3 separate regions of the Homo sapiens genome follow, and all the other regions are reported to be linked to region 1. The links are microRNA targets in miRTarBase. Many come from high-throughput screens and were not tested one by one. Region 1 holds a microRNA gene; each other region holds the end of a gene's coding sequence.
The links. Region 1 holds the annotated microRNA hsa-miR-449a (UGGCAGUGUAUUGUUAGCUGGU, at 3,290-3,311, opposite strand). A microRNA usually pairs through its seed, bases 2 to 8, with sites in the 3' UTR of a target mRNA and lowers its output. Matches are read on the target gene's strand: a 7mer-m8 pairs with bases 2 to 8, a 7mer-A1 pairs with bases 2 to 7 and ends in A, and an 8mer does both.

Region 2: the mRNA of PHF19 is a reported target of hsa-miR-449a. Seed matches in the 3' UTR shown: 7mer-A1 at 2,652-2,658.
Region 3: the mRNA of UST is a reported target of hsa-miR-449a. Seed matches in the 3' UTR shown: 7mer-m8 at 4,346-4,352 and 8mer at 4,521-4,528.

The regions. Positions count from the first base shown.
Region 1 is chr5:55,167,297-55,172,296 of GRCh38, forward strand. It overlaps MIR449A (microRNA 449a), which reads right to left and starts at 3,326; the gene lies at 3,236-3,326. All of the region lies in intron 2 of CDC20B (cell division cycle 20B), which reads right to left. GPX8 (glutathione peroxidase 8 (putative)) reads left to right here. Exons shown (of 3, transcript NM_001008397.4): 3 at 1. It overlaps MIR449B (microRNA 449b), which reads right to left and starts at 3,446; the gene lies at 3,350-3,446. It also overlaps MIR449C.
Region 2 is chr9:120,849,288-120,858,435 of GRCh38, reverse strand. It overlaps PHF19 (PHD finger protein 19), which reads left to right. Exons shown (of 15, transcript NM_015651.3): 15 at 150-2,785. The coding sequence ends at 492. It also overlaps the pseudogene CUTALP. Among named protein-coding and RNA genes, the nearest start is that of PSMD5, 11 kb to the right of the region's middle. RefSeq lists enhancers at 1,700-2,199, 2,200-2,701.
Region 3 is chr6:149,071,223-149,081,968 of GRCh38, forward strand. It overlaps UST (uronyl 2-sulfotransferase), which reads left to right. Exons shown (of 8, transcript NM_005715.3): 8 at 2,611-5,768. The coding sequence ends at 2,894. Among named protein-coding and RNA genes, the nearest start is that of UST-AS2, 44 kb to the left of the region's middle. RefSeq lists enhancers at 1,923-3,122, 8,751-8,870.

The sequences.
Region 1 (5,000 bases):
ATGTGCCCTGAAAGTTGTATTTCATTTTTTTAAATGTTTAACAATTACACTGTATCAATAGTATATATACGTGTACATATATATAATTCTTAATAACTGCAGTGTATCTAGCATATATATAATGGTGGCTGGTACATGTTTAATAGCAGACTCTGGAGGAGGAATCCTGACATACAGCATTTGCCAGCTCAATGTAAATGCTCATGCTCCCTCATGGTCAATTTCAATCTACCACTGGTTTAGTAACTAGGATGCAAAATTTCTAAAAATGTGATAATTGGTGATGGGCATGATGGCTCAGGCCTGTAATATCAGCACTTTAAGCAGCTGAGGTGGGAGGATCACTTGAGCCCAGGAGTTAGAGACCAGCCTGGGGCAACATGGCAAAACCCTGTCTCCACAAAAAAAATCAAAAAATTAGCTGGGTGTAGTGGCACATGCCTCAGGTCCCAGCTACATAGGAGGCTGAGGTGGAAGGATTGCTTGAGCCCAAAGAGGTCAAGGCTGCAGTGAGCCGACATGGCTCCACTGAACTCCAGGCTGGGCAACAGAGCGAGACCCCATCTCTACAAAAAAAATTTTTAAATTAGCCAGGTGCGGTAGCACACACCTGTGGTTCCAGCTACTCAGGAGGCTGAGGTGAGAGGATTGCTTAAGCCCAGGAGGTAGAGGCTGTAGTGAGCCATGATTGCACCACATTGATTTGTGGTGTTCCTTTGAAAGAAAAATGACATGTTTGGGTGGAGCTGATATGAGGACACTCTATCCATATTTAGTCCTCTGCTTGATTTTATCTTTCCCATCAAATAAAATTCTAATAATTGTTAGGCCTAGAAACTAATCCACCACACTCCTTCCCACTCTTCCCTTCCCCTCATCCAGCTGAACTGTTAAGGCTGTCTCTTGCAGAGCAGTGCAGGGGAATAAAAAGCAGCAGAGAGAGAGAAATTAGGAAGCTATCACTATAATAGTGACAGGTTCAGAGGGCAGCGATGGGAAGTAGTGACATTCCCAGCACCAGTGAACAGCCAAGAGACTGCCCCAAGAGAAAACACCTGGGAGAAAATACTTTGCCATCAGCAGAACCTCCCTCCTCTTTTTACCATCCCTTTTCCCTCTGCTTGACCCTTGACATCCCAGTGTGTATCCCTTTCTTTCCCTCTCCCACCTATGGAAACATTTTCTCTTTTAATTTGTATCTTCACTTTCCTCCTAACCCATTCATCTCTTTAACATATTTTTTATTTCTTTAACATATTTTTATTTCATTCCATTCCTTCCCTCTTTTCTCATCATCTCGATAATATGAGACTAAACCACAACTTTAAATGTCTTCTGTTTATTGAATATAAAGTTGGTTTCCCTACAGAATCAAAAGTTCTAAAAAAGAAAACTTAAAAAAATTTAAGTTGGCATTTTCAGAAACAGAAAATCAATTACGGCATGTTCCTCACTTCTAAGTGGGAGCTAAACAATGGGTACACATGGACATGAAGATGGAAACAGTAGACACTGGGGACTCCAGAAGGGGTAGAAGGAAGGAATACAAGGACTGAAAAACTATCTATTGGGTACAATGTTCACTATTTGGGTGATAGGTTCACTAGAAGCCCAAACCCCAGCATCGCCTATTATATTTATGTAACAAACCTGCACATGTACCCCCTGGATCTAAAATAAAATAAAGTTGGCATTTTATATCTTGCTCTTTAATTTAAAAAAACTAACACACAAAAGCCAAAGCTTCTAAATTTAGTAGGTTTTATTTTTATCACTAGGTCAGTGATTCTTTATAGAAAATAACATGTTGAAATTTAACCTTAAAAAAAGACAAGATGAAAATAATATTTACATGGAAGATATACTTAAACATAAATCTCCTGAAAGTGAATAACACTGGGCAACATCAAAAAGAGGATGTGATTTGAAAGTAGTAAAATGCGTAAGAATCAAATTATAGATATCTATTTAACCCATGTTCTAGAAATATGTTTAAATAAGGAAAGCATAAAAATTATTTTACCAATAACTTATAATCCAGTACAGTAGAGAATGCGAAATATTTCTTATATCTCATCTATGGCTTAACTAACTGATGGCACCACCAAAGTCAGTTCCACTGACTGGCTGCAAATGTCCGCACAAGAATACTGCATGTCTGGAAGCCAGCACATATCTATGCTACTTCGTGGGTCAAAATGCCTCCAAGGTAATGAGAATATATTTAAGGTCATATTGTATGGTCAGTTCTTCCCACTTCACAAGTTGTTAGATCTCATGCTGTCTTCCAAATATTTCATGAACCTGTGATTTTACAGAAAATGAAGTGAAAGGATTGAGGTAGATCTTCCAAAAAAATGTAAACCATCCCCCACCCAAAAAAAATCCCCAATATTCTTGATATTTCAAGTGAAAAATGTTTTAGTTGACTGACTCATCTGGAAAATTACCTCAACTTTCCCTTCAGTTGGTACACACACAGTCATGGCTATAGAAACCAATTCTAATGCTGTATTTAGAAACTAATGATGCAGAGGCCGGGCGCAGTGGCTCACGCCTGTAATCCCAGCACTTTGGGAGGCCGAGGCGGGTGGATCACGAGGTCAGGAGATCGAGACCATCCCAGCTAACACGGTGAAACCCCGTCTCTACTAAAAATACAAAAAAATTAGCCGGGCATGGTAGCAGGCGCCTGTAGTCCCAGCTACTCCAGAGGCTGAGGCAGGAGAATGGCGTGAACCCGGGAGGCGGAGCTTGCAGTGAGCCGAGATCGCGCCACTGTACTCCAGCCTGGGCGACAAAGCGAGACTCCGTCTCAAAAAAAAAAAAGAAAGAAACTAATAATGCAGAAAGAATCCTAAAGACTTCACTGAAAATCTGGGGACACATTGTAGGTCCATTCCACATTGTTATTACATTCTAAACCTTATAGTTAAAAACATGTAATTTCATAAATACTTAAACACTGTCTACTCCGAAAGACTCCAAAGACTCCAAAAATATTTCTTAAAAATTTTTAGTTATGGAAAAGCAGGCATAAGTAAATTTTTCTTAAAAGGAAAAAATTTAAGTAATTGTAATACTTTCCTTACCATTATAAAACTGTGCATTGTAAGTATTACTGTATTATAAGCTAATGGCAATAATATATTATGGTAAATAGTGGCTTGCTTCATAGCAGAAAGTACACATAAACACACACTAATTACAGATTCAGTTACACTCTGATGTTCATTGTATATGCAATAAGACAGCAGTTGCATGTTAGCCGATGCCATTCACATATTCAACCAGCTAACAATACACTGCCAGCTCATCACACACAGGTATCCAGAGCACTTCATTGACAAGAAGAATTTATCCAGAAGCAAGTGGCAGGGTAGTTGTGGCTGCTGACTTGACCCAAGCAGCCAGCTAACAATACACTGCCTACCTGATTCAGGTCACTGCCGATTCTCGTGGCCCAGGCAGTCACTGAGGCTAAATTTGTAACATGAAACATAGTGGCAGAACTCTAATCTTAATAGTCACATTAAAGAAAACTTATACACAAAATGTATTACTTCAAGACTATAAGAAATAAAATCAATATTTGCTTGAATCTAGTCAAAAACATAAAAGTTAAACAAAAACTTTAAAACTTTCAGAATACTTACATTTAGGTTTTCCAAATTAAATGCTTGGATAAAAATATGTTCTACAGTACAAATGAATTTTAAAAGTTACTTAACTGTAGGCTGGGCGCAGTGGCTTATGCCTGTAATGCCAGCACTTTGGGAGGCCAAGGTTGGCTGATCCCCTAAGGTCACAAGTTCAAGACCAGCCTGGCCAACATGGTGAAACCCCGTCTCTATTAAAAATACAAAAATTAGCCCAGCGTGGTGGTGCTGCCTGTAATCCCAGCTACTCAGGAGGCTGAGACATGAGAATCACTTGAACCCGGGAGCTGGAGTTTGCAGTGAGCCGAGATTGCACCACTGCACTCCAACCTGGGCAACAAAGTGAGACTCTGTCTCAAAAAAATAAATAAAAAGTTACTTAACTATAGCTTTTCAAATCACTTCTGTTTACTGATCCAAAGACTACTTGTCTGTATTAGACAGTAAAATATCTAGGAGTCGTGATAATACATAAGCTGTGCACGACACAAAACTGCAGCAGTGTTTGGGGGAAAAAATCAACATTAAAGTATTTAAGAAATGTAAGGGCTTAAATGCAATTAGTTTTCTCCTACTAGAAATGACATTAGTAATCGAGTTCTGAAAATGCAATTATGTATTCAATATAGGATGTTACCACTTGAATACTGAATTTTTTTTTTTAAGAGGCAGGGTCTGGCTCTGTCCTCCAGGCTGGAGTGCAGTTGTGCAATCATAGCTCACTGCAGCCTTGAACGCCTGGGCTCAAGCAATCCTCCTGCCTCAGGCTCCCAAGTAGCTGGGACTACAGGCACATGTCATCATGCCCAGCTAATTTTTGCAGTTTTTTTATAAAGACAAGGTCTCCCTGTGTTGTCCAGGCTGGTCTTGAAGTCTTGGCCTCAAGTGATCCTCCTGCCTCAGCATCCCAAAGTGCCGGGATTACAGGCATGAGCCACAGTGCCTAGTTGCAAAATTTATATAAGATCTAGAAAAATCTATTAAAATGGTGGTGGATTTGGAACTAGAATCTCTGCGTACAGGTCAAAGGAAGATGAACTATTGAGCCTAGAGAGAAGCATGGTAAATGGTGACAGAGATTTAAAGCAGATGAAGGCTCTTTATGAAACACGTTTATAAAACCATTTAAATTTGTTTCCTTTTACACTGATTACAGGAGACACTAAAGACCTTTGGGTTTGGTCTTTCAAGGAGAACAGGTACTACATTGGATCAACTTTAAATTGCTCACGTTAAGAACCATGGTTTATGCCACTTCTCCACATTGTCCACAAGATGGCACCATTTCCATTTCTTTGGGGGGCGTGCTTCTGAATGCAACAGAGAGGAGTGCAACTAGCA
Region 2 (9,148 bases), not on the chromosome of region 1:
AGAGAGCATGGGAGAAGATGGATAAGAGAATGCTGTTCAGCGCTTTTCTCTTCCACTTTCCTGGTACTGAGGGGAGGACTCAGGGAGAGGAATTTACTGTGATTGTTCTACCTCATTCTCATCATCTTCCTCTCCCACTTCTGATACAGATGGACAGTGGGCAGCCGAAAGAGGAAGCTGGCAGCCAAGGCATACATGCCCCTGCGGGCAAAGCGGTGGGCAGCTGAGCTGGATGGACGCTGCCCCTCGGACAGCAGTGCAGAGGGGGCTTCAGTCCCCGAGCGGCCAGACGAAGGCATTGACAGCCACACATTTGAGAGCATCAGTGAAGATGACTCATCCCTGTCCCACCTCAAGTCATCTATCACCAACTACTTTGGTGCAGCTGGGCGGTTGGCCTGTGGGGAGAAGTACCAGGTGTTGGCTCGGAGGGTCACACCTGAGGGCAAGGTTCAGTACCTGGTGGAGTGGGAAGGGACCACCCCTTACTGACTAGCCCCCGGGGGTGCCAGGGGTCCTGAAAACCAAAGGAGGAGCAGCAGAAGCCATAGGCTCCCCAGCTTTCTCCAGGCTGGGGTGGGAGAAGGAAGCAGGACAGAGCTGCAAGTGCCTGGCAGAATGCCCTGCCTGCCTGCCTGCCAGGCCAAGGCCTGCGTCTCTCTGCTGTACCAGCTCTGTTCCAGGGCCTCCTCAGGCTCGTTACCCCTGTGCCTGTGTCTCTACACACTCCACACCCCCTCAAACTCTGTTTATCTGTTCTCTGACCTTGTGTCCCCTGCGCTGGGACCCTTCCTCCTGAGGCCCAGGTCTTTGTCCCCAGTTGTGTGCCTTGACCTCTCTCGCCCCTTTCTGGGTGTGTTCGCACATCCTGTGTGTGCACAGCTGTCCCTCCACTGGATCCCCTTCACACGTGACCCGTGGGGCAGCCAGTCCTCCCAGGGACTACATAACAGGCACCTTTGAGAGAGCATGGGAGAAGGTGGATAAGAGGATGCTGCTCAGTGCTTTTCTCTTCCACTTTCCTGCCACTCCCCACTACCCTCGGAGAGAGGTGGTGGGATGGGAGAGAGCCCCTGTGAAAGCCTGTGAGGATCTGAAGAGTAAAGGGCTGGGTCTGCCTCAGAAGGCACCAGCACCAGGGCCCAGGTATTAAGGCTGAGAGTGAAGGCTGCCAATGTCAGCTTTGGAGGTCCCAGAAGTCTTCTGTTCTCTGGCCTCACCCCCTCAGTCGCCATAGAGCTGGGCCTGGCCTTGCTGGAATGGAGGCATCCTTCCAAACCTGGGGGACGGGGGTGGGGGGTGGTAGTGGTGGGAGGGAAACCATGTCTTGCTAAACCTGTTTCTGGTGCCTCCCATCCCCAGACCCACCAGACACCACACAGCAGACAATACACACCCACTCGCACAAGCTTCCATCCACATGTGTTGTACTTTCAGCTCTAGGCATGCAGACAACCCCACACGGCCACACCACCACATGCCCAAGTGTACACACACAGAGCCACACCGTCCCTCTGGGCCTGCTGGCTCCTCCCTTGGCTTTCCCTTGGCCCACTTCCAGGGCCCAGGTGCTGCAACTAAATGTGAAAGCTCAGTGGCCGCTCCTTCTTTCAGCCCATCAACCAGCATTGGTCCCATAGGGAAGCACAGGGGACTCACCCTCTTTCATATCCCTTGCCCTGCCCTGAAATGGACAATCACTTTTTGGGATAGGTTGAAATTTTTAAAGAGCCTGCATCATTTGGTTCCCTCAAAGGGAAGCCCTTGCCAGTGGGGGTTTGAAAGAGAATTTTTGGAACCAACATTCAAATTCTGCCTCATCTGGAGGGAAACCAAAATTGGGAGGGGGAAGAGGACCCCTGATGTTTTGCTGCTTCCAGAGATATTAGAAACTGACTCACTTGATTGGAAAATGGACAAAAGTGCCTTGACGTGGAGGGTGGGCACCAGATGGGGACCAGCCTTGCCAACTGCTGCTGTGGCCTCCAGCTTGGCTGGTTTTGCAGGCCGCCAGCAGGAAGGCGAAGGTGGTAGTACAGCAAGAGGCACTGGCGGGGCAGCAGGCCTGCAGGAGCTGTTTTTCCATTGCTAGGCCTGACCCCTCTCTACCTGTGAGCGTTCAGGGGGTCCCTGAGATAGTTTAGATGCCCCCCCATCTTAGACCTCAGCTCCCACAGTGCCTTTTAAGGGGGACCTCACCTCCTGTGCACAGCCCACCCACTTTCCTCTGCTTCCCTGGCACAGCCCAGGCATAGACGAGCTGGCGTTGGACCCAGTTCTTCCCCCTTTTCAGCCCCACAGCTGCTGCCACAGGGGCCAACTAGGGCCAGGTGGAAGGGGAGCTGAGAAGCCAACCCCTAGCCCAGGGGTGCTGTGGGAACTGGGATCCAATTTGTAGCTTCCTGCCTGGCTTCAGAGAGCCCAGCAACCTTCTAGGCCTGCTTTCCAGACTTCTGAGATAGCCTGGGATGAGCAATCCTGTTATAGTACATCTGGACCTTCCCTACCTGGGCTCTGGGGAGGCTGTGGGCCTGGAGAGGGAAAAGGAGGGAGGGGGTGTCTGCACCACCTGGGAAGATAGCACAAGGCCTAATGAGGTCACCCTGACTCCCCACCCCAGCATTTCATTCATACCAGATAATAGCTGCATTACTGCCAACTGACCTTATAACCCTCTGCACCTTCAAAAAGATTCATGGTTTTTAATTGCTGCTTTTAATAACATTTGTTAAAGTTATAATTAATGTGTCTGATTTATGATTTAAAACCTCCCTTTGAACAATCACTTGTCTTCCCTATAGTGAATTAGCTGCTGGGTGGCAGAAGGAATTGGCTCTGGCTTTTGCACTTGGTTTACTGGAGGCTGAGGAGGAATGGCAGGACCCTGTCCTCTGGCCACCTTGCCACTCCTACCACTGCCAGCAACATTCTCACCCTTACTGCCAGAGAGAATATGGAATCTTTTGTGAGTACCCGACCTTTGGGGGCAAAAAACATTAGTTGAGTGCCACTGAGAGGTAAAAGATGGAAAATGAACTTAGAAATTGACACTATTATAATACTTAGATCCGGGCATCGTAAAACTTTATCAGTACATCATCACACAATTCTAGAAATATGAAATGAGTTCTAGACCTGACTCTGCTAGTTCTAACCTGTGCCACTTTAGTCAGATTCCTTTCCTTCAGTTTTATCACCCTTCAAATGGCAGTGATAATCCCAGCACATCTGCTCCCCATGTGTTGGGAGAGACTTTGCTGTGTGTGACTGATTATTACTTCAAAATAAACCTCTAAATTTAGGGCAGTTTGGAGAGGAAAAAAACAGGAGATGTAAAGGGGTAGGAAAAAGGTCATCTATAGAGAGGTAAAGGCCATGGATTCCACTGAATTCTACAGTTTGAGGGGTAAAGTGTAACCTGTAATCCCGAATGAAGGACTCAGTGGTGTTAATATCTGCCCTTAAACGTCTTCATTCACTATGGCTCCCACTTCTTTCTACCACTCCATCAGCTTCAACCTTTTATCTGTCCTCAGAATAAAACCACAATGGGACTTGGGGGTGGTGGTGGTTATTCTCTGGGCTATAATTAATGGAATGGAATGAAAAGTGGCACCAGGTGTCAAAAGACCTGGGTTCTAGTGCAAGGTCTGCAATAAGCAGCTATATGGACCCTCCTAAGATCAGTGGGCCTCCCAGGCTAGAGAGTGCCTGCTTTTCTGTAGTCTAGTGTTTCCAAATTCACAACAAACATTTACCTTCGGAAATTAGGGACAAAGAAGTAGAATTCTCAGAAATCCCCCAAATTATAAGTTATTCTTCAAATACTTCATTCTTTATACTGTTTTCCTCATTATTATAGGTATCTGGAAAAACTTTGTTTGCTAAGTAGACATATTAAGCTTATTTTTACTTACAAAGAACTGTAGCGTACAGAGAATATTTAAAAGACAGGAAGATGCCAGGGAACATATATTGGATAGTGTTCAAATAAATATAACATTTGAATAGCCTAGAGCAAGGTAAACAGAATATAGAATCAATCGTGTCCAGACTGTTAACTTATTTTGCTTCCAAAGTTTATTTCTCGGAACACCATAAGATTTGTATAAAGTATGGTAGGTTGTTTATCAAATCATTTTGTTTGCAAGAACTCACCATTAGCAGCTGATATGGCCAGATATACAGATGTAATGGCATCACAACAACCAAAAATAGGGCTAATGAGATGGTGACCGTTTCTCTCTGCTATGCTCCTGTCTCAGTTCTTGTAGCCTTCAACTCGGTACGTTAATATTTGATGAAGTTGGATTCTTTCAAACTAGTGATGTCTCCATAATGGTAAGTGTTACTATTCACAGAATAATTACAATACTTCTCATTTCCTCAACTGATTTTTCTAGGGATTATGGATTCAAAAAACATACATTTCCTAAGAAATACTGGGAGGGAATTCCCACATGGAAACACTGGTCTGTGTCCTAGCCCTAGCCTCTGCAGCATCATTCTGGGATGACAGTTTGTAATAGTGACCAAAACATGTAAGTTGGAGTTAAGGCAGATCCTAGAGATCAGTGAACTCCTGCAGATCTGTGGTGAGTAGTAAACAATATATATATATATATATATTTTAGACAGAGTCTCGCTTTGTTGCCAGGCTGTAGTGCAGTAGCATGATCTTGGCTCACTGCAACCTCTGCCTCCTGGGTTCAAGCAATTCTCCTGCCTCAGCCTCCCAGGTAGCTGGGACTAGAGGCATGCGCCACCACACCCAGCTAATTTTTGTACTTTTAGTAGAGACGGGGTTTCACCATGTTGGTCAGGATGGTCTCAATCTTTTGACCTAATGATCCGCCTGCCTCGGCCTCCCAAAATGCTGGGATTACAGGTGTGAACCACCGTGCCTGGGAAACAATACATTTTTAAGTGCCAGACCAACTTACCACATAGATGTTTTAAAAACTAACAACTTCATTGTTGGCTACGGCAGCTTCTCTGGATCTACAGCCTACAAAGAACTGACTGAACCTCTGAATGAAAGAGTGAGAGCATTAGGTTTAGAATCAGAGTTGGGTTCACATCCTAACTCTGCAATGTACTTTATGTGTTACATGTTCTTTGGTCTCAGGTTTCATCTGTAAAATGAGGATAACATTGCATTATAAGGATTAAATAATGTTAAGAACCTAGGACAATGCGTGGCAGAAACGGCCCTCTCCCCTCCCATTTCCTATAACAGTCAACCTTGACACCAGGGAAGAGGAAGGCCACCAAGAGCTTTCTGGTAACAGAAAACCACTCAATGAAGGCCACACACAGAACACTCTCCTTTGGAATTCATCTCACTTTAAGAATATTCAAGGAAAAAAGTTGAATTTTGCCAATTCATAAATCAAAAGTGAGTATGTACTGTAGAGAGAGCTTTAGTTATTTAAATACTTAAAACATCAATTTGCCAAACAGGTGCAAGAGATTAAATAGATTCAGACATGCCCCTATCCTCAAGTAGCTTACAAGCTAGGAATACAAAGCTGACTGTGATGCACAAAGATGACAGGAATACCACGAAAGAAGAGATTCCTGCCAACCACGGAAGCCAGGCCATACAAAGGAGCAACAACATTTCACAGGCATTCATGCAGAAGGGCATTCCAGGCAGAGGGGATGGCATGAACATAGCAATAACATCACACAGTATAGTGCAGCCATCCATTTCCCAGCGTGGGAGAGGAGATGGAGGGGATGATGACGGAAAAGGTGAGCTGAAGCAAGGTTATAAAAACCAGAGCTAGAAATTGGACTTTATCCTGGAAGCAATACAGGCAGTCCATCTTGGGTCCCCAGTACATTTTAGGTAGGGTTTACTTTACACAGATTTGCATATATATCAGAACATGATCTGTTGTAAAAAGCAGGGACATCACCATTATCATTCTCTTTGTTCTTCTGAGTCAGTCCCTCAAAATCTCCATTGGAATCCTCTGGAATTTTCCGAAGGCCCCAGCCTAAAGTCCCTACAAGATCTTTGCAAAGGACTCTCAGAGATCCTCTTCCATTTGGTATTTGGGAGCACAAAGATCCAAGTAGTACAGTAGTTATCAGCACTACAGCCTGCACTACCCACTTTCTGGATCTCTGTGCAGTTCAGTTCCCTGAATAATCTATAAAATGAAAACAGGCTCAGAGGAGTGGTTTACAAACCTTTAACAAAGAAAGCTTTTTAAAAATCCCCATGCAGGCAGTCTCCAAGGCACCTATTGTCAACCCCTGGGGCTCTGTGAAGCAAACCTGAAAGACACGGGTCTGTCCGATTCCCGGGGCTGTTTCTGTGCTCAAGTGAAAAGATTAGTTGGGTGGGCTCAGAATCTACATCTTCATGGACAAAGCACCAGAATGATCTGATGTCTGTCATTCAGGCTAGGGAAGAGCCAAGACTTACTCCCAACCCATGAGGCTGTGCCAAAGTCCTAATATTCCCTGAGTCATACACAGGCTCATGGAGCCCATTCCTAGTCCCACCTCCTCAGAATTCAGGACCAACAAAATCCTCTTTAGCAAGGAGAAATAATCCTGCTGATCCACGAAATGCCACAATTAGCAATTTATCCTTTTGCTAAAGCACTTGCGAGTCCCCATAGGAGGAGGCATTCATCCCACACTCTTCCAGGTAAACAAGGTCATGAGGGCCACTCCTCCCCATGAGAAGCAGCAGAGCAATTACATCCTAGGCACCTGAGGCAGGCCTACTGACTCAAGAAGATGGCAAGTCTCATCTTCACTGCTTCTTCCCCTCAGTCTGTACATATAACCATCCTCATGCCCTTGTGCCTGCTTAGCCCCCTTAACCATGAAGCACTCAGAGACAAGTTACACTGTGTTCTTGCTTGGCCTGACTGGCCCAGCCTTTTCTTCCAGCTTTAGGAGCCTCAGACCTTCAGCCTCTACAGGCCATTTAGCTCCTCTGTGCTGACAGGAACATGAAATCCAGAGATGCTGGGAGGTAGAAGGCAGCCTCCTCTTCCCCAGAGTGCAGCTGATGGAGGCTGGAGGCAGCCGCTGGAGGTAGCCAGCAGCATGCACAAAAAGCTTTCCCCACTCAGTCCTCTTCCATGCCTTCCTGAAGCCACTTTAAATACTGCACATCTCCTTAATCCACAGGGAGACTGAAGATCTCTGGGATTTCAAAAGGATGTACAGCCTTTGGAGAGAAAGCAAAGCCCTATAAGTGACTATGATTAGAATCAACTCGTGATAAAACCCAACTGGCCAGCCTCAAGGGAGGCCCTCTGCAACCTGCCGCACCCCACCTGTCCAGGCCCACGGCCTGTCACTCCCTAGCCTATGTTTCCCATCTGTCAATAAGTGGCCAGTTAGGCCAGATAGCTTTAGAGTCTCACAGACATGGGTTCAAATTCTAACTTTGCCCCTACTAGCTGTCTGACTATGGACAAGTCACTTAGTTTTCTTTAAATGCTCCTATTTTTAAAAAAAAAAAAAAGGCCCTACATGACTGGACTGCTGAGGATTAATTAACACAAGGTATACAAAGCACTTACCCAGTATACCAGCTGGCACTGTATGCATTCATTACATGTGAGCTACTCTTTTTATTATTATCCTATACACATCACTTCCCAAAACAATCCCCCCTCCCCCAGTATCTCTGTATTCTTTTGCCCACCTAGATTCCACCTGCTCCTGCTGATCAATCAAAAGCCTATTCTTGCTTAAAAAAAAAAAAACTTCTCTGTCCCTCAAGGTCCAATTCAACCACTGACCTTTCCCAAGGGATCTTCCCTGACAAACAAGGTCTACAGGAATCTATCTTCCTCTCCTGTGTCTTTCGCCTGGCCCTTGTCACACAGTGCAAGTTCTCTTCACTTTCTAGACTGAAGGAACATGAGGACTTGGGCCTCAGTGTCCCATCTGTCAAATGAGGATTATAATCCTCTGCCTCCTTTCTGCTGAATGAGGTGTTTTAAAGTTCCCGTAACATGCTTAATAAATCACAGCATATGTATACATTCACATGTTGCTTCAAATGTATGCTTAAATATTCTGTACGTTGGGTGCCTGAGGATAATGAATTTTGTTAACTTATGTGTTTTTATAAGCAGACATACAGAATTCAAAGACATTTTTAACACATTAGGAATAAGAGCTGAGACTGATAAAGCATTTCATGTACAGGTTTCACATATTAATTTCCATATGCATAACAACCCATTAGTATAATCCCAATTTTACAGAAGGGGCAACTGAGGCACATAAAATATTCATATTTTCCAAGCACTATGGAACAGTGGCAGGTGGGGAGCCAGGTTTCAAGGTAGGAGGTCCAACTCTCTTAACCCTGAAGCTGTCCCTCACCAGTTAAATTTTAATTTCTCCACAGTACTGGCTCTACCAATGGTTCCTTACTCTCTCACCTCTGCTGAGGTGGTATCATGAGGGCCTCCTCTAGAGCTAGTTTGAGACCCAGGGGAACGGTGTATTCACAGAATCTTAGTTCCCTAAGGAGTAAAGAAAAGGTTTCATCATCCATATAGGTGGTTTGCATCTCTGGCCCTACGTTAGAGTCAACCTCAGAAGGTTCAGGTGACCACGTTAGAGTCATCTAAAAAGAAAGGTGCTTTTTAGTACCACTATACTTGATCCCCGCCCTGGCCAAATTAAGTCGAAATCTGTGAGGTGGGGCCTAAATTGGTAGTTTGAAAAATGTTTCCAAGTGATGCTAATACATAGCAGCCAGCGGTGAGAAACACTGGTTTAGACCAGTGCTTCTCAAGATTTAATGTGCACAGAAATCCCCTGGGGGTCTTGTTAAACTATAATTTGATTCGGTAGGTCTGGGGTGAGCAGGAGATTCTACAGTTCTTGAAAGCTCCCAGGTGATGCCAATTCCAAAAATTCCACTTCTGAATGATAAAGGTTTATACTAGAGGTTCTCAAAGTGAAGGTCCACTGACCCATGGGGATCTCCAGGACTCTAGGGGGTCCATGGGGTCAAAACTACTTTCATAACAATATTATTTTATTATTTATCCTTTTACTATGTTGACATTTGCACTAATGGTTAAAAAAAAAAAAAAGAAAAGAAAAGAAAAAACAAACAACAGGCTGGGTGTGGTGGCTCATGCCTATATCC
Region 3 (10,746 bases), not on the chromosome of region 1:
ATAGAGAATTTTTCAAATTCCTTCTTTAGAATTGCTACTGAAGGCTTCAGAAGGTACCTCAAATATCCTAAAAATTGGGAAGTCTATGTCCTTTCAGATGAGTCTGATTTTGGAAATAGCCATTTGGAACTGTATTTAGTAAATTATATACCTATTCAAATTTGTTGACAAAAATTTTAGTCAAAAGCAAGATTATAAAAGAAAATGTGAGGGCAAATCTTCATGACCTTGGATTTGGCAATGGCTTCTTTAATATGACACCAAAAGACAGGCAATAAGAAGAAAACAGATAAAATGGTCTCCATTACAATTAAAAACTTCTATATGTCAACCTTGGATTTGGCAATTTTTTTTAATGTGACACCAAAAGTCAGGCAATATGAGAAAAATGGATAAAATAGTCTTCATTAAAATTAAAAACTTTTATGCATCAAAGAACACTATCAACAGAGTGAAAAGACAGCCTGTGGAATGGAAGAAAATATTTGTAAATTATATACCTGATATATGTGCAGATTATCTAAAATATGTAAATAACTCCTTCAACTCAACAATAAAAACAAACAAAAGCAAACAAAAAAAAACCCCACTTCAAAAATGGGCAAAGGACTTGAATAGACATTTCTCTAAAGAAGATATACAAACAAACAGCATTTGTTGGACACATGCTTGTCAAAAAGCACATGAAAAGGTCATTAGAAATTAGGGAAACCATTAGCATCAGCATCACTACAGGAGTCATTAGGGAAATGCAAATCAAAACCACAGTGAGATACCACTCCACACTTACTGGGATGGCTACAATTTTAAAAAGGGAGGAAAATAACAATCGTAGGAGAGAATTCGAAGAAATTGGAACCTTCACACATTGCTGGTAGGAATGTAAAATGGTGCAAACACTGTGGAAAATAATTTGGCAGTTCTTCAAAACATTAAACTTAGAATTACCGCATGACCCAGCAATTCTGCTCCTAGGCATATACCCAAAATAAGTGGAAACAGGGACTCAGATACTAGAATGCAAATGTTCATTATAATAAGCAAAAGATGGAAACAACCCAAGTGTCTCTCCAAGGATGAAAGGATAAACAAATTGCGTTCTATCTATACAATGGAATGTTATTCAACCTTAAAAGGAATGAAGTTCTGGGCCAGGCATGGTGGCTCACACCTGTAATACCAGCACTTTGGGAGGCCGAGGCAGGTGGATCACCTGAGGTCGGGAATTCGAGACCAGCCTGACCAACATGGAGAAACCCCATCTCTACTAAAAATACAAAATTAGCCAGGCATGGTGGTGCATGCCTGTAATCTCAGCTACTCAGGAGGCTGAGGCAGGAGAATCACTTGAACCCGGGAGGTAGAGGTTGTAGTGAGCCAAGATTGCGCCATTGCACTCCAGCCTGGACAACAAGAGCAAAACTCCATCTCAAAAAAAAAAAAAAAGGAATGAAGCTCTGATACACACTACAACATGGAAGAACCTTGAAAACATGCTTAGTGAAATAAGCTAGACAAAAAAAGGACAAATATTGTATGATTCCACCTACATGAAGTACTGAGAATAGGCAAATTCATAAAGATAGAACATGGATTAGAGGTTCTATCTAATCGATGGGGTAAGTAGGGTGGGGTAAGGAAAGGAAAGGAATTGGGAGTTATTGTTTAATGGATATCAAGTTTTTGTATAGACTCATGAAAGGATTTTTAAAACAGTGGTGATGGTTGCACAACACTGTAAATATAATTAATGCCACTGAAGTGTACACTTAAAAATAGTTAAAATTGTACACTCTATATATAACATTTTCATGCTATTCAGCAATGAATATAAAATATATTTTGTTATTAAGCATTAGTATAAAATTAAGCATATTTTAGTTGTATATATTTTACCACAATAAAAAATTTAAAATTTACAAGGGTTAAAATTATATTTAGACTGGGTGCAGTGGCTCGTGCCATAATCCCAGCACTTTGGGATGCCAAGGCAGAAGGATCTCTTGATGCCGAGACCAGTCTGGGTACATGGTGAGAACCTGTCTCTACAAAAAATAAAAATAAATTTTAAAAATTTGTAAATTATACTTAAGAAATCTGGCAGCCCTTCCTTTCCTTTTCTGGACAAATGCATTGTTGAAATAGTAAAATGGAAATGGATTTTGTATCAAATTAAACTTTATGTCAATATTTTAAAACTTACAAAACAAGATTATTAGAAAGTGGTTAGACAGCTCTTCCATGCCTCCTTCTGAGGGTAAAGCCCTTTTCTGGTGTATCAAGAAATAAAAGAGGGAAAATGGATAGATTCTGCTGTTCAAAAGAATGTAGAACTCAGAGTTAACAATTGAATTTGGTCCAATCGCATGGTTCACATCTGATGAAAGGAAATTTGATAGCTTGTGCTTCGTCAACTCATGTTGACATTAACACCTAGAGTTGGTAAGTGTTTCCAAATATTGTCAGGAACCCTTCTTCTCTTCTAATACTTGGATATGCAGTTGCTTCCTTAGGTGCTACCAGAGTTGTACAGGTAATGTGGGTCCTCGCCGGGATCCCTTCTAAGCTACTGCAAATGATGGCTCATGTGCGACCCCGGTTCTCTTCCAGAGCACAGGAAGCTTGGAAACATGACTGTGACGGTGAAGAAGACTGTCCCCTCTCCTGAGGCTGTGCAGATCCTCTACCAGCGGATGAGATACGAGTACGAGTTTTACCACTACGTCAAAGAGCAGTTCCACCTGCTGAAGCGCAAGTTTGGACTTAAGTCTCACGTCAGCAAGCCCCCCCTGAGGCCACACTTCTTTATCCCAACTCCACTGGAAACCGAGGAGCCAATCGACGATGAAGAACAGGATGATGAAAAGTGGCTGGAAGATATTTATAAGAGGTGATGTGACTGTGTTGCCTCTATGGCTTTATCTCCCTTTTCCAGAAAGTTCTTTGTTTGGGGAAGTAAAATCCTTAAGGGACTAAATTAATGCTTGGGTGCATTAAAAAGAACAAAACATTCCCACATGTTGGGGTCATTGGGAGATGCCCGGTTTTGCGGGTTTTATTTGTTTAATTTTATTCTGTGTTTTCTCTTGGCTCTTTGGGTCTTTCCCGGGTACACTAGATGGCTCCATCCCAAGGCATCTTGTCATAAAACAGCTTTCCCCCACCCCATATCATGGGAAAAGGGGGAGAAATATAGCCCCTAGCCTAATAACTTATCATTTGTAAAATGACTTATAAAAATATTACCTCAATGGTAGGAGACATCCAGACTTGTATATTTCAGTGGAAATACAAAACCACTTCAGAGACCAGGGTATCTCCTCTGGAAGGATCTAAGAGAAGGTAAGACAGATTAGGACATCGAAAAGGAGGATGGAGCCAGGTGCCATGGCTTGAGCCTATAATCCGAGGCTGAGGTGGGAGGATCACTTGAGCCCAGGAGTTTGAGGTTGCAGTGAGCTGTGATCACACCACTGCACTCCAGCCTGGGTGACAGAGTGAGACTCTGTCTCAATTAATTTTTTTTTTTTAAAGGAGGAGGATCTCCATGGGTAAGTGGTTTCTACCCGCATGGGTAGAGTTCTGCCTCTGGTCCTTCTCAGGGGGCACTTTCACCAAGAGCAGTGTAATTATCTCTGAAAGAGCAAGTCAGCTTGTGCCGCATCCCCAACCAATCCACAGCCTGGAGTACCTTTCAAGGTCAAAGTGCATGGCCAGCTCCATTGAGACATTCCATTTCAAAGCACCGTGCTGACAGATATCAAAGTACTCTAGCAGGGAAAATAATTTGTTTGCTGTGTAAGGAAGAATGTAGACAAGACAGATAAATCTGAAGGTCATGTGGCATCAGGGAAAGGGCATGGCTGTGTCTTTTGCACCCAATATGAAACATCTTCTCCCAACACTGCTTTAATGGAAGTTCTAGGAACCAATTTAGCTCAGGCATTTGACTCCTACAGCAGAAGTTCTGAGCCTGACCACAGATGGTGTGTAATCTATCAAACACACCCCTGGCCAAGTTGGGTCCTATAGGACCTGGTACTATGTACTATTGTAACTTCTAGTTCCCTAAGAGGTACCTGTTTTCAGTAAAAAGGGGTCCTGAGTTCTGTGCAGGTGGAAGAGCTACCCGAGAACTACCTGAGTTCTGTGCAGGTAGAGTCCCATTTCTTATGGGACCTGTGTGCTCCTGAGAACTCTTACTTGAGACATCAAAAAGAAGCAGCAAGAGCTTCTGGGACAGAGACTGCTTGGCCAGCTTTGTAAGTAAGTGGCTGCCTCCAATGTGATGTGAGTACATGTTGGGCAGTCTCACTGTCCTAAGGTATGTCTTCTTTCCACCTCCCACTGCCCCTCCCCTGCCACCTATCAATGATGCCTTGGTTCAGTCATTAGAAATCTGTTGCTTTGAGTTCTGAAATATTTTCACCTTAAAAAAAATGCTGAAAATACACATTCTCCTGGGAAGACGATAAACAGCTAGCTAAGAAGCCGAGGTTCAGTGGTGGCAGCAGGAAGGACACTGCCACAAATTTTGTCTATTTCATATTTGTCCCCTAGAGCCAGCCCTAGCAAATGTGTGAGTTGGGAGTAGTTAATAGTAAATAAGACTCTGACTTTACACAAGCTACACATTTTATACTTTTCATAAACCACAAAGTCTCTCTAGAATTTTTTCTGCCTTCACTAAAATTGGACTGTAGCCAAGATATAAAGCAAGTCATTTGGAACCTGCCGAGTGAGCACTGAAGCTACTTTATCATGAGATGTGTGTTAAGAAGGCTGCAGCCCACAGGAGTCCAGGGAAGGCGGGGACCACAGAGGCACAGAGTCCAGCACTTGGCCGCTCATGGGCCTTCTTTCTGCCTCAGAGGACGGGGGCAGAGAAGTGATGAAGGGAAATGTTCTTAGAGGAGGAAATATCCTTTGTCCTGTTCAGAGAGACCAGGGCCCTACCATTAGGCATACTTTCAGAAGCAACCTGGAGAACAGCTATCAATCATATTCAAAACCAGTACAAGAACTGCTGCCTGGTACCCTGTGAGTCATTTCTATGAAATTCCATATAAAGAATGATGATAAGTTTACACACTGTGCAATCTCACAATCTGAAAATAAAGTTGAGTTGGCTGTGTTTTCTCTGCTCTTGTCAGAACATTGGGACAATTGGTCGTTCAAAAACATTCATCCTCTTACTGCAAGTTTATCTGGGTACTTTTACCTGTGTGTTCAAAGGCATTTCTTTTCAGCAGTGATCATTATAACTTCACAAAAAAAGATGCTGACGGATTTACTTACAGGGCCTTAATGTTATTTTGTCCCAGCCAACACCCTCTAGGTCCTAAAAGTCAAGGTACTTCAGTTTATTTGGCAAACATGACAACATTTTTTTTGGCCCTGGGCCCAACAGTTTGTACTTCATGAAACATATTGTACATTTTACATAGTTTAATTTAAAAAATACCTTTTAAGCTAGTTGATCTTTGACTGTCTTATTTATTATAACCTTTCAGCACATTCCAAGGTTTTAGTTACTCAGGAAGGAGTTAATTAAAATGATTTTATTTTGGTCTGATGGATGTTTTTTAAAAGGAAAATTATTATTATGAACCTTCAGCCTACTTTCTTGAGTGCCGTAAAAGTGCTTGTAAATCTTTTTTTTTTTTTAAGAAGAAAGAAAAAAATGGTGTTTGACGTTGATGGAAATTCAAAAATATATATGGAACTGAAACATTAACTTAGCTAAAATAAAAGCAATCTGTGTTTGAGATGAAGCATTCCTTAACTTATTCATCACCCATATAAATAAATAAATATAAATAAGTTGACATATTTCTTCCATCCTGTTGACAGCTGGAAATAAAAGTGCCTGCAGTTCCTCCCCTCAGCCTTCTTAATTGGCCAAGCTTTTTTCCTCAAGATGGGATTTTGAAAAGCTGTATTTTAAAAAGTGTATCAATTTTCATTCGTGTAATTATATGACAGCAAAAAAAAGGGGGCTGATAAAATGAACTAGTCATTTACTCATGTTGTTGCATATTTTAAAAAGCAAACAGGTGATTTTATCAGTATTTCCACGGTTGGTTTCATGTCGGGGTGCTACATCTGAATCATCTGTCTCTGTTATCCAGCATCTACGGGGCATGTCTACCGTCAGATAGGAAAGGAAGGATGTGCCCCAATTCTCAGTGTCTACGATGATCTGTTTCTCAGACATGCAGCACTTCAAAACCTGGACCACTCTAAGCTCTCAAGTGAGTAGTCTTGATCTGGAAACACCGTTCTTGGGAAATTTCACTGCTGTGGTCAAATGGAGCTTACAAAGAGAAACAAACTATGCTCCCTGTGTGTCTGATGCTACATTCCAATTACATGTGACTGTTATATAAAAGAATCAGAATGCTGATACGAAAGGAAAGAAAAATCCACTTTGGTAATGGTATGCTTTATTTCAAGTAAGAATATGAGAATCTTAAACAGCAGGTGATAAGTGGTGACCTTTGTTCATCATTTTGTTTGTCCTTCTGTAACTCAATCAAATGATGTTTGACTCAATCAACTTTAGAGCCAAAAATACTCAAGAAAAACTGGACCGTGCCATATCTGGGGTTGCTTGTGTGGTCTGAAGTTCTTTATACATGTGCCATCACCTGCGGGTTTATCCAATGAGCTATTTGGCCTTTAATGAATTTTATAGATAATGACAGTATTTCTTAAAAGGCAGGATGACAGCCGAGCGCGGTGGCTTATGCCTGTAATCCCAGCACTTTGGGAGGCCGAGGCGTGCGGATCACGAGGTCCAGAGATTGAGACAGTCCTGGCTAACACAGTGAAACCCCGTCTCTACTAAAAATACAAAAAATTAGCTGGGTGTGGTGGCATGCGCCTGCAGTCCCAGTCACTCAGTAGGCTGAGGCAGGAGAATCACTTGAACCTGGAAGGCAGAGGTTGCAGTGAGCCGAGATCATGCCACTGTACTCCAGCCTGGGTGACAGAGCGAGACTCCGTCAAAAAAAAAAAAAAAGAAACAAAAAAAAAGCAGGATGACAATCCATAGCTATTAAGAAAAATAGCCCTCTGGGTCAAAATTGTGAAACCCCCTTCAAGTAAAGATAAAGAGGAGTTATTTTACTAACACGGCTTATTTCACATCAGATGATAAAGAAATCTGTAAAAAATAAACAAACATAATGTTTTAAATATCCTGCTACAGAAAAGTCTTTTTTGGGCTAAAACCAAAAATCCAAGTCTGTTAAGAAAAACACACAGAACTTCTTTCACAGCCCAGCACATTCATTGTGATATCATGTGGTGTTAGTCGGCTAGGCCTACCGTAACAAAGTGCTGCGGACTGGTTGCCTTAAACAACAGAAGTGTATTGTCCCATAGTTCTGGAGGCTGGAAGTCCGAGATTGAAGTGCTGGCAGGGTTGGTTCCTCCTGAGGCCTCTCTCCTGGGCTTGCAGAGGGCACCTTATCCCTGCATCCTCCCGTGTCCTTCCCCCGTGCCTGTCTGTGTCTTGATCTCTTCTTCTAAGGACCGCAATCATATTGGATTAGGGCTCACTCTAATGACCTCATTTTAACTTAATGACTTCGTTTAAGACCCTAATATGGTTTGGCTGTGTCCCCACCCAAATCTCATATTGAATTGTAGTTCCCATAATCCCCACATGTGAAAGGGACCCGGTGATGGATAATTGAATCATGGGGGTGGTTACCCCCATGCTATTGTTCTCGTGATAGTGAGTTCTCATGACATCTGATGGTTTTATAAGGGGCTTTTCCCCTTTTGCTGGGCGCTTCTTCTTGCTGCTGCCACCATGTGAAGAAGGACATGTTTGCTTCCCCTTCTGCCATTATTGTAAGTTTCCTGAGGCCTCTCCAACCATGCTGAACAGTGAATCAATCAAACCTCTTTCCTTTATTAATTATCCAGTCTTGGGTATGTCTTAATATTAGCAGTGTGAAAACAGACTAATACAGATCCTATTTCCAAAAATGCTCACATTCTGAGATACTTGGTTAAGACTTTCATATATGAATTTGTGGGGGACACACAATTCAGCCCATAACACCCAGACTATAGCAGAAAAGTTAGGGCAGAGGAACTGAATTCCTACTAGGAGAGAAGCAAGCCTCAAAGTGCAGATTCCTATAGTTGCATTGGGGCTCTGGAGCAGTGATCTGGTCCATTCCCTCATTTTACAGACAAGGAAAACCAAGGTCCAAAGAGGAGACACAAATATGTCACATGCTAACTTTGCCCATTGAGGGTTCCCTTAACTTTTGAAGCAGCTACCAAATTAAAACTTTAAAAAGATGATATAGCCAAAGCCCATCTACAGACCTAGGATCCAGAATGAAAGTGATGAGGCACTTTCAGCCACACCCACTGCCACCTGCTGTACTGGAGCAGCCTCACCATAGGGCTCTCCTGGGAGCCGGGGCTTTGGAACTCGCCTTTCCACAGAGGGAGGGGAGGCCCTATTGGTTTTCAGTCACTGAAGTCCTCAGAGACAAATCCCAAATAAATATTTTATTTTTAATTTTTCTGTCTGCTCAAAAGACACAGAGAGGTTCTTGTTCCTTGGTAAACAGACTTGGAGCATGTTTGCCCATCTCAGATTACAGAGTTTTATTTCTCTTAAAGGCAAAATGAAGATTCTTGTCCTACTTCCTGTAACGAGTTTCAGATGGACCCACCTCCAAAAATATAGTCAAAATGCAGTTCATAAAACTAGGGGAAGTCAAGTACAGACATGTCCCAGGAAAGCAGAACCAGAGGAGAAGCAGACCCCGGGCACTCGCAGGACTATTTGACTCACTGGAGAATTCCCTTCTGCCAGGGCAGGCTTGGCTCACTGCTCCAAGCACTGCAGATTCCCAAGGAACACCCAGGCCCACAGATGTTCATGGGTCACAGAATTGTGAACTGACCACTTGTGCATTTTGGATTTCAACTTGTAAACATGGGGATTCCCTTTTTACAAAAAGAAAAAGGAGAGGATGAAAAATCACCATGCAAAGGAAAGTTGAGAGCTAAGTTTTTCCTTTTGGAATCTTGGCATGCGCATTTAGCTATCTTCAATCTGGCTTTCACCAGACGCTGTGTGCTTTGAGCAGGGGTGGAGCAGTCTGCCCTGTGCCGCTCTGCCAGAACATTCAGACTTGACCTGTCACAGGCCTCTTATTCCAGTCAGGAGCAGACACGGCCCAGGAGATGGGCCCTGCCAGACACAGCAGGCTGCCTTTGAGGTGCAACCAGAGAGGCAGTAAAAACCTGGGAGGAGAGCATTTGACTGACTAGGCTGGGGGCTGCCCACCAGTCAAGTCCCCGAGTTCAAGTCCCAGCTGTTCTGTTTCACTGGGCATCAGTGTAAATCATTTGACCTCCATCGGTCTGAAATCGACTCAGCTGGAAAACATTAGAAAGAAAATAAAACATCTACTGAAAACCAAGAGCTGCTTCTGGGATGAACCATTTCCCACCCTTGACCCCTAAATGCTAAAAGACTGAGCCACAACACTTCCTAAGCTGATGAAAGGTTTGTTCTCACCACAGAACACTGTATCCCCAGCAAGAGGGCATAGAATTACATATAGTCATTCCAGGTTGCCTGAAGCCCCCGTTCCTTCATGTCTGCAAGTGGCATTGCCCAGTATGCTGTGAGTCGATGGACAGCAGCATTTCTGAAATGTGAATTGAGCTCCCAGGAGTAGGCACATCCTCCTGGGCATGAGATAGAGCAAATGCAGCAAGGACCTGTCCTGAAGAAGCATCGGTCCCTTCCTCCTGGCCTGGTTTCCACTGTTCTGTTTACTGTGCCATTATCCAAGATAAACCAGTCTGTGGAATTCCACTTTTCTCAAGCATTCTTTGGGACGAGTTTGTCTAGCTGCAAGTTAGAAGATTCAGCTCTAATTCACAGCTTGTACTAAATACAGGCTTCCTCTAACTTATTTAAACTACTGTGTGTATCTGTGATCCCATGACTAATGGTAATAATGAGCCTAAAACATCCATGTGAATTAATACAGGTTGTGCACAAAGAAAAGTGTTAGTAAAAATTGGAAACCTGGCAGGACGGGGGTACTAAACTTCTTGGAGGGTCATTTCTCATTCTCAGAAGTAGTGTTACTGCTGTGATGTGGGAAAAATCTGGCAATGATTTTGTGGGCTGGTGATGTTTCCAGCATGGTTGATTCCCCATAGGACTGCCATGTTGAAAAACTTTAATGTGTTGTATTACTAATCTTTCAAATGCAGAAGAGAGTTAAGACACTGACCACAAACTTCCTTATAGTCACCTTAAGTTTTGCACATATCAAATTTACTATTTGCTTTTTCTCCTTTTGGCACACTTTCCTGTATGGTGTCCATCTTTGGAAACTAGTGAAATTCTAGTCCAATGTGTATTCTCAAAGGATAATTCATGAACCAAGTGTGTGAGATAGGCATGAAAAAAAATCGTGTTAAATAATTTTGGAAGTGCTGCAGTTCATAGTGTGGTGTTACACAGTATGGTAGTATATTCAGAGTATACTAAGGACTCATGCATACTGAAGCATTTTTAAAAATTAATTGATCTTTTGTTGAATTTCAAATTTCTCAAAAGTATTTGCCATGAAACCCTTATTTGCATAAGACCCATTGATATCCTGTGGAACTAGTGTTCTGGAGACTACACTTTGAGAAACAATGCTTTAATGCAAATTATTGGATTACATTTTTCCTCATTGGAAG